Regions from separate parts of the Homo sapiens genome. Here region 2 is linked to region 1. Evidence: fine-mapped expression QTL. A gene starts in region 1. The other region holds a variant in brackets. All regions are shown on one strand. Distances are from middle to middle. Region 1 holds the start of ELOA (elongin A). Region 2 has its middle 24 kb from the start of ELOA.

The links.
Region 2: its variant is fine-mapped to the expression of ELOA in whole blood (INTERVAL, PIP above 0.99).

Annotation. Positions count from the first base shown.
Region 1 is chr1:23,740,856-23,745,248 of GRCh38, reverse strand. ELOA (elongin A) reads right to left here and starts at 1,778. Exons shown (of 11, transcript NM_003198.3): 1 at 1,671-1,778. The coding sequence starts at 1,745. RefSeq lists silencers at 1,117-1,596, 1,747-1,976.
Region 2 is chr1:23,717,204-23,721,596 of GRCh38, reverse strand. No RefSeq gene overlaps it. Among named protein-coding and RNA genes, the nearest start is that of ELOA, 24 kb to the left of the region's middle. The variant G/A (reference allele first, on the strand shown) is at 2,267.

The sequences.
Region 1 (4,393 bases):
ACCATTTATTAGATGTCCACAAGGGGTTACTGTAAAAAGAAACTTGTAAGTATGCCTGACCACTAGGTACGGTACTGAAGCTGCAACAGAAAACATGGCACAATGAAAGCATTTTAAGTTTTCCCAGATTTGTAACTAAAATGGCTTCCTGAGGAAGTGAATCTTCGAGCTAGGTATGAACGAAGAGCCTTAAAAAGTGGTCTGATGGTGAGAGGCTGTGTACGGCCTTTGGAATTGCAGAAACCCTACCTCCAACAGGCTAGAACAAGGTAAAGAGAAAGTGGCTCTTCAAGAAAAAAAACCCCAAAGAATGACGATTGGTTTTCTGAGCACTGACTTTCAGCCTGGTACCTTAGCCTTTCAGGTTAGTCCTAGGAAGCAGCAGGTGAGGAAGAGGCTCAGCAGAGCAGTTCCCCCACGGCCCTAGCCCTCCCTCCACGACTTCCTTTTCCACCAGGACTGAGTTCCAACTCCTAGAACTGCCCGCCCCGGCCAGAATGATGACGGAGAATGCCAAACACATAAGTGCTTTTTCATCGTTGTACTTCCACTTAAAAAATCCTGACAACTGAGTTCAAGACCAGCCTGGCCAAGATGGTGAAACCCTGTCTCTACTAAAAATACAAAAATTAGCCAGGCGTGGTGGCGGGCGCCTACAATACCAGCTACTCGGGAGGCTGAGGCAGACAATTGCCTGAACCCGGGAGACGGAGGTTGCAGTGAGCCGAGATCGCGCCACTGTACTCCAGCCTGGGCGACCAGAGCAAGACTCGCCTCAAAAAAAAAAAAGAAAAAAAAAAATCCTGACAACCACCAGACTGTCTCCTGGAGACCAGAGAAGTGAGTGACAGAAAGATGAAAAGGTACAAGAACGCGTTTAACTTAATATTCAGTTTGTACAATAAACAACAAAAACTAGTTAACTACAATTAAAAATGGTTGTCCATCACTCGAACAACGAGAAACGGTAGCTCTTACCTTCCTATTAATGGCCAAAAGGAAACCTAGCTGCGACTTCCAACCCCGGGCCCCCGCCTCTTTTTCAATTCCAACCTAAGTTTTCAGGAGTATGCTTAGGTGACGCGAGGCTTTATTCTGTTTTGAAAGGGATTCACTGAGAAAGCGAAAGGTCCACGCTCTGATATCCAGCCGGAGAGTAGTAACCGCGTCTCCGAGAGGCGCGGACCAGACCGCGAGTCCAGGCTCCGCAGCGTTCGGGCGCCCGTCTTCTCCTCCCAGCGAACACGCACCCGCTGGGGAGTCCGCGCCGCTCCGCGGGGAGCCGGGCACCAGCGCAGGCACCGGGAGGCCAACGAGGCGGCGGCCAGCGCCCTCCCGCCCCGGGCACGCTCTCCCGCAGGAAACAGCTGGCTCGGGACGCCACGGAGCGCCTCTGGGAGGAAGCGCTAGGCACGCGGTGTCCGCACCGGGCGCGCCCCCATCCCGGGCCCGTGAGGGAGGGGGAGCGGCCGGGGCCCCGCGTCCCGACGCCCGACGCACGGGGTCCCAACGCGCGGGCAGCGGTCAATGGCCGCGAACTTCACGACCCCAGCCCCGCGGGGCCTGGCTCAGGGTCCCAGCCCCCGAACCCCGCCACGCTCGGGCCGCGACCGTTACGGGGCCCTCACCGACCCAACGCCCATCCCGCTACGCGCCGCCCCCTCGCTTACCTTCTTAGGGTCCGGGTTCGCGGCCAGGCGCGCCTGCAGCTTCTCCACAACTTGGAGCGCCGACTCCGCCGCCATCGCTGTCACTGGCGCGGCCTCCTCGCCGGAACTGGGCTCGCGTCGCGTCCTCGGGCCGCAGCTCCGCCCTCCGTGCATCCCCGGCGGAGACGGAAGCGCGCCTGGCCCCTTCCGGGCCTCGGCTGGGGTGTGTGGGGGGCGGTGGGCTGCAGGCTCCGCCCCCAGGGCCCGCTCCCCAGCGCCCACCCGGCGGCCGCGCACTCCTCGCGCCCCTGGCCCAAGTGTGCGCGCTGGGGGCTGGGGGCTGCTCGGGCCGTACGCGCCTCCGCCGCCGGCACCCCCGCTCCCTGTGCTCGCGTGCTGAGCCCAAGCCTGGAAGACCTCTCCAGGGTCTACTTCAAGACGGAATGAGGCCACCGCGCCAGACCCTGGCCTTATAAATGCCAACGCTTTCTCCCGCCTGGGGCTTAGCCACACCCTAATCAACACCTTGTCAGGGGTCCCGGGCTGGTGCCCGTCCTAGGAGTCCGCAGGCACCCGCGGTAGCAGCCACCCTAGGCTGAGCACACGATGCGTCAGTAGTTAGACTATCTTTTCCAGCCTCAGTACAACCTGATGAAACGAGTTGTATGATCTTCATTTTACAGATGAGGAAACTGAGGTTCAGGGAGACCAAATTAACTTGCAGATGGCCGCAGGACAGGAAAGAACTGAAAATGGAACCTGAATCTAAGATGTCTAGGACCATTGTGAGCGCACATTTCTGAACAGGTCGAGGAATTGAGGCCCAGAGAAAGGGATTTTTCAAAATCCAAACAGCTTAGTTCCTTCCATGAGGCAATAATAGCCCATGTGTCTTGTTTTCCCCACAAACAGTGTCTGGCACATAGGCACTAAATAAATACTTATTGCATGAATGTATAGATAGATAGATGTTTCCTCTGATGACTTGCCAATGAGCCGTATGGCTTGATTAGAAGAGCCCAAGATATTATTCTTCAGGCCGTCTACTCTCATCCTAAAAGCACTAAGTTTTACCATTACTAATACTACTACTAAAAAGAGCAACTAAATAGTTGCAAACTCACTTAAAGTACCAGCACTGATTACATCTCATTTGATCACATCAAAGCAGAACCTAATCAGATCTTCAGCAGCAAATTGGCAATGCACCTAGCCTGATCTCTCCCTCAAAGCAGGAAAGCCCAGAGATTCTTCCAGATTCTAGCTCTGGAAGAAAGAAAAACATCTTAAACACAAGTTGTTTCTTCAAATGAGCATTCATTCACTCACTATGCTGAAAAGCCCTCTCTACCATGTCCCTACTCCTCCATTTGGCGCCCCTCCCCCAGTTCCCTAAGCAACTGACCACCTTTTCAGGGTGTAAATGGTCAGTTTATTTATCTGTCTTGCCACTGGGCTGTTTATTTATCAAGTACAGTAACCGACCTGTCCAACTTTGAATCTCTGCCACCTAGCATCATCTAGACCTTATAATCAGCATTGGATATAAAGTCCATACAAGACTAATGACCATCCACTTGGTACCCTAAGGCTCAACTGAGGGATGTTGTAGAAAAGGCATTGAACTGGGTGTGAGAAAACTTCGATTCTAGTCCCAGCAGTAGTGTCTCCCTCCTCTGCGTAGCAAATACTTTTACATTTTATATTCCTTCCATTTTGAAAATGTACCACTGGTGTAATGGAATACAGACTGATTCTTGAAGCAGAATTGCTGAGTAATTGGCCTGGCACATACTCGGGACACATGAAACATTCTGCAGATGTTATCCAGAGAGAGCTCAATAACCAAAATGAAAAGAAACAATGAGGTTGGGCACAGTGGCTCATGCCTGTAATCCCAGCACTTTGGGGGTCAAGACGGGAGGACTGCTTGAGCCCAGGAGTTTGAGACCAGCCTGGGTAACGTAGTAAGACCCAGCCTCTACAAAAAATACAAAAATTTTAAAATTAGCCAGGCATGGTGGTGCGTGCCTGTGGTCCCAGCTACTTGGGAGACTGAGTTAGGAGAACCATTTGAGCCCAGGAGATCAAGACTGCAGTGAGCCATGATCGCACCACTGCTCCAGCCTGGGCAACAGAAAAAACAAAACCAAAAAAAAACAGAAAGAAACAACGAATGCTTCTGGGGGATCCTGGAGTGGGTGTGCTGCTCCCAGACAGCCACCCCTATGTCAGACTGAGTCAGGCTTACCTGCAAAGTACTCTTACATTTGGATATATGACTTTTTTTTTTTTTTTTTTTTGAGACAGAGTCTCACTCTGTTACCCAGGCTGGAGTGCAATGGCGAGATCTGGGCTCACTGCAACCTCTGCCTCCCAGGTTCAAGCAATTCTTCTGCCTCAGCCTCCCGAGTAGCTGAGACTACAGGCATGCGCCACTACGCTCGGCTAATTTTTGTATTTCTAGTAGAGACGGGGTTTCACCATATTGGCCAGGCTGGTCTCGAACTGTTGACCTCAAGTGATCCACCCGCCTCAGCCTCCCAAAGTGCTGCGATTACAGGCATGAGCCACCACGCCTGGTCTGGATATATGACTTCTAGGATGAGCAGCTAATTATACATGTGTAATTCTCTGATTTTTTAAAAAAACTTTTCAACCACTTCTAAAATTGGTACTCTGTATGTATTCACTGGGGGATTACCATTGTAACCCTTGGTTTACACACGAGTGTTCAACACAGG
Region 2 (4,393 bases), 24 kb after region 1:
TGGCCAGGCTGGTCTCGAACTCCTGAACTCAAGTGATCTGCCCACCTCGGCCTCCCAAAGTGCTGAGATTACAGGTGTAAGCCACCGTGCCTGGCCCTGTCATTCATTCTTTCAGCAAAAATTTACTAAGCATCTACTATGTGCCACGTGCCTTGCTTGCACTGATGTGCCTGGTACATAGGCACAGTATGAACAGTAACATTTAGGCCCCTCATAAAGCCTACAGCCTGTTAGGGTCAATGAGGCTCTTAGTGTTTTTTGGGTTTTTTTTTTTTTTTTTTTTTTTTTGAGATAGAGTCTCTTGCCCAGGCTGGAGTGCAGTGGCACAATCTCGGCTCACTGCAACTTCCACCTCCCAGGTTCAAGCGATTCTCCTGTCTCAGCCTCCCGAGTAGCTGGAATTACAGATGTGTGCCACCATGCCTGGCTAATTTTTTTTCTATTTTTAGGAGAGATGGGGTTTCACCATGTTGGCCAGGCTGGTCTCGAACTCCTGACCTCAGGTGATCCACCTGCCTTGGCCTCCCAAAGTGCTGGGATTACAGGCATGAGCCACCATTCCTGGGCTGAGGCTCTTAGTGTTTTTTTTGTTTGTTTGCTTTTTTTTTTTTTTTTTTTTTTTTTTTGTGGCTCTTAGTGTTTTAAGCCTTACTTCTGGCCCCTCTCACCTCTTACTCTTTGTTCTAGTCATCATGACAGAGTTGGGATTTCCCAAACTTGCCCCATTGCAGCCTCAGGGTCTATAAATATGCCAACCCAAAATTCCAGCCCTCAGCCTCCTGGCCTCATTAAGACTCAGTTTGAGAATCACTTCCTCTGAGCAGCCTGTACCTAACCCCACCCCAGATCTGCCCCAGATTATCGTGCACCCATCACTGGAGGAGTCTCTCGTGTGGTCGTCACTGTCCATTTCTTTGTGTGATGTCCTCACTAGACTGTGAGCTCCTTGCAAGCAGGGACTGTGACTAAACCATCTCTGTATCCCTGCTGGGGGCACTAACTAGCTGGTGAACCCATAAGTACGTGGACTTGAACGGCCCAGTGGAGGGTCTGTATGAGAGGTATCCGCATAGGGCAATACACGGTGTGAGAGAAGAACTGCAGCTTCAGAAGGGCTAGGAGGCCAGGTTCTCAGCAGGAGTTTCCAGAGCACATAGCCTGTAACCACCAGGAAACAGGCAGAGATACAGAGCCTCGAAGCTGAGAAAGACAGTGCCTTACTTCTCCTTGAAGAGGGGCCTTGTGTGGTGAAAGTAACACATCTGTGTTCTAATTTGACTCCTCACCGGCTATGTGACTTTGGGTTAGACGGACCTCTAATATTTGCATGGCTGATGGCAAAAGTGTATACAGAGGCCCACATACCATTTATCTAAATATTTAAAAGTTAAAAACTAACAAACCATTAAATACAGTTTTTACTCTATCCTATCCTATTCTGTTCTCTTACTTCGATGAATATACCTTCATAATGACCTGGGGCTAGGTTTAAATTTAACATTCTCAGATTCCTAAGAGTTCTTGGGGATGTGGTGGCACAAGGAGAACTAGCCCCTAACCTACATGCTGTTCTTCCCACCTGCATTAGGCAGAATAATGTCCCCTCCCCACCCCAGGTGTCCACACCCTGATCCCAGGAACCTGTGAATATGTTATCTTACATGGCAAGGGGGAATTAAAATTGCTAATCAGGCCAAGCATGGTGGCTCACACCTGTAATCCCAGCACTTTGGGAGGCCGAGGCAGGAGGATCACTTGAACTCAGAGGTTTGAGACCAGCCTGGGCAACATTGCAAGACCTCATTTCAATTTATATTACAAATTTATTTATTTTAATACAATAAAAATTGCTAATCAGCTGACCTCAAGATAGGGAGATTATCCTGGATTATTGAGGTAGCCCAAAATAATCACAAGGGTGCTTCTAAGTGAAAGCGAGAAGCATGAGTCAGAGTCAGAGAAGATGTGATGACAGAGGCAAAGGCTGGAGTGATGGGATTGCTGGCTTTGAAGGTGGCCACCAGCCAAGGAACACAGGTGGCCTCTAGAAGCTGGAAAAGGCAAGCAAACAGATTCTCCCTGGAGCCTCAGGAAGGACACAGCCATGGCTATACCTTGATTATAGCCCAGTGAGACCCATTTTGGACCTCTGGCCTCCATAAATGTCAGATAGTAAGTTTGCGGTAATTTTTTTACAGCAGAAATAGGAAATGAATACACTGCCTTAGTCTCTGTCCTGCACCACAGGGCCTCACGTTCAGCCCAG[G/A]GGTCACACCAGCTCCTAAGTGCAAAGTCACACTCACAGACAGATGCCCCTTGGCCACCCCTTGGGCCTAGGGGTACACACACCAGTGTTCTGGGGAGGAGGGACCCAGGGAAGAGGCTCTGGAAAACAGCAGGGAAATCTGGGGTTGTGACATGTGTAGCATGGTCTAGAAAGGGGTATGGGCTTAGGGTTGGCACAGCTCCTAGGCTGCACGGCCTCCTCACCTGCTCACTTGGGGTAAATGGCTTCACCTCCCTGAGCCTCATCTGTAAAATCAACCATGTGGATCATTATTGAGCACATCATCTGAGCCAAGTGTCCTACTTAGTATCAGAGATTTGAGAATGCCTCATCCTTGTCCTCAAGGAACTCATCTCCTAGTAATTCTGACCTCACAGGGCTTCTACCCAAGAAGGGAATGGTAGGTAAAGCAGCTGACACATAGAAACCCCTCAATAAACTTTATTTTCCATTCCTTTCTACTTAACCAAATCAAGGGGCTTACCAATTAAAAATAAAAATCCCTTGCCCAAACTCTTTGATGGATTCCATCTGCTCCTAGGAGGGGCCTAAAATCCTTTGCAAGCCCAACCTCCACCCCACTCTGTGTTCCACATACAAACCTTGTAATTCCTCAACTCCACCAAAGGGGCGCTCCTGCTTCTGGCCTTCGCCTTGCTGTTCCTGCTGCCTGGAATGTCTTGTCTTCCACAAACACCCACCCCTTCTCACCAAGCTTTCTCTTTCAGGGCTTAGTTGAAATGCCATTCTCCTGGTGAAGCCCTTCTCGGTTTCAGAACCCCACTAACCTGAGCAGGTTTACCTGCCATCTTCTCTCCCAACACCAGATAGGACTCTCTGTAGCACTGACCATGATGGCTATTATATGACTACTATTTGTATTACCTTTTGTTGGTTAAATATAAAATGAATTTATTTTCATAATTTTAAATTTCATGTTCTTCAAGACAAAGTCTCAAATGTATTATTTTTGTGTTGTGGTAAAATAAATACATATATCTAACATTTAGCTATGCCATTCAGTCAGTGGCATTCTGTAGATCCACACTGCAACCATCACCAGTATCCATCTTATCCATCTCCAGGACTTTTTCCATCCCATGCTCAAACTATGCACCCAATAAACAATAACTCCCTATTTTTCCCTCCCCCAGCCCCTGGCAACCATAGTTCTATTTTTATCTCTGTGACTGTGACTACTCTAGGTACCTCACACAAGTGGAATCATAGAATATTTGTCCTGTTCTGATTGGCCTATTTCACTTAGTATAGTGTTTTCGAGGTTCACCCAAATGGTAGCACGTATCAGGATTTCATTCCTTTTTTTTTAAGGCTGAGTAATATTTCATTGTATGGACAGACCACGTTTTGTTCATCTATTCATTTGCTGATGGATATTTGGGTTGTTTCCACTTTTGGCTATTACGAATAGGGGTGCTATGAACATCAGTGTACACATATTGGTTCCTGGGCTTTCCATTCTTTTGGGAATATGCCCAGAAGTGGAATTGCTGGATCAAATGGTAACTCTATACTTAATATGTATTACTTTTTGTCCACTTTTTATTGGTTTATGCTCCCTCCCCACTTCCTCCACTGTAGTCTAGCACCATGAGGGTAGAAGCCACGTCTGTCTTCCTCTGTGTTTCATTGTGTGGTACCCTCACTAGACTGTGAGCTCCCTGCAGGCACAGATTGTGACTAAACCATCTCTATATCCCTGGTGGGGGCACTAAATAGTTGGTGAACCCATAAGTAAGTGAACTAGAGCAAAGCGCCTAAAATAAAGGCGATACATCGATGGGTCCAGCATGGGCTTGGCCCTTCAATCAACATTTGTTAAATTAATGAAACAATGGCAATTTAGCTGACTTGGGTGAAGGCTGGAAGCCTGAAGCAGATGTCACAGAAGAAAAGTGACAACAATTCCTGACGGGGATTTTCACTCCCAGAGGTCCCAAAGAGACTGACTGGCCATAGATCTGCCTGGTTTTCTCCCTTTCTTTTTCTTTCTATGACTGGCCATAGATCTGCCTGGTTTTCTCCCTTTCTTTTTCTTTCTTTCTTTTTTTTTTTTTTTTCCGAGATGGAGTCTCACTCTGTCGC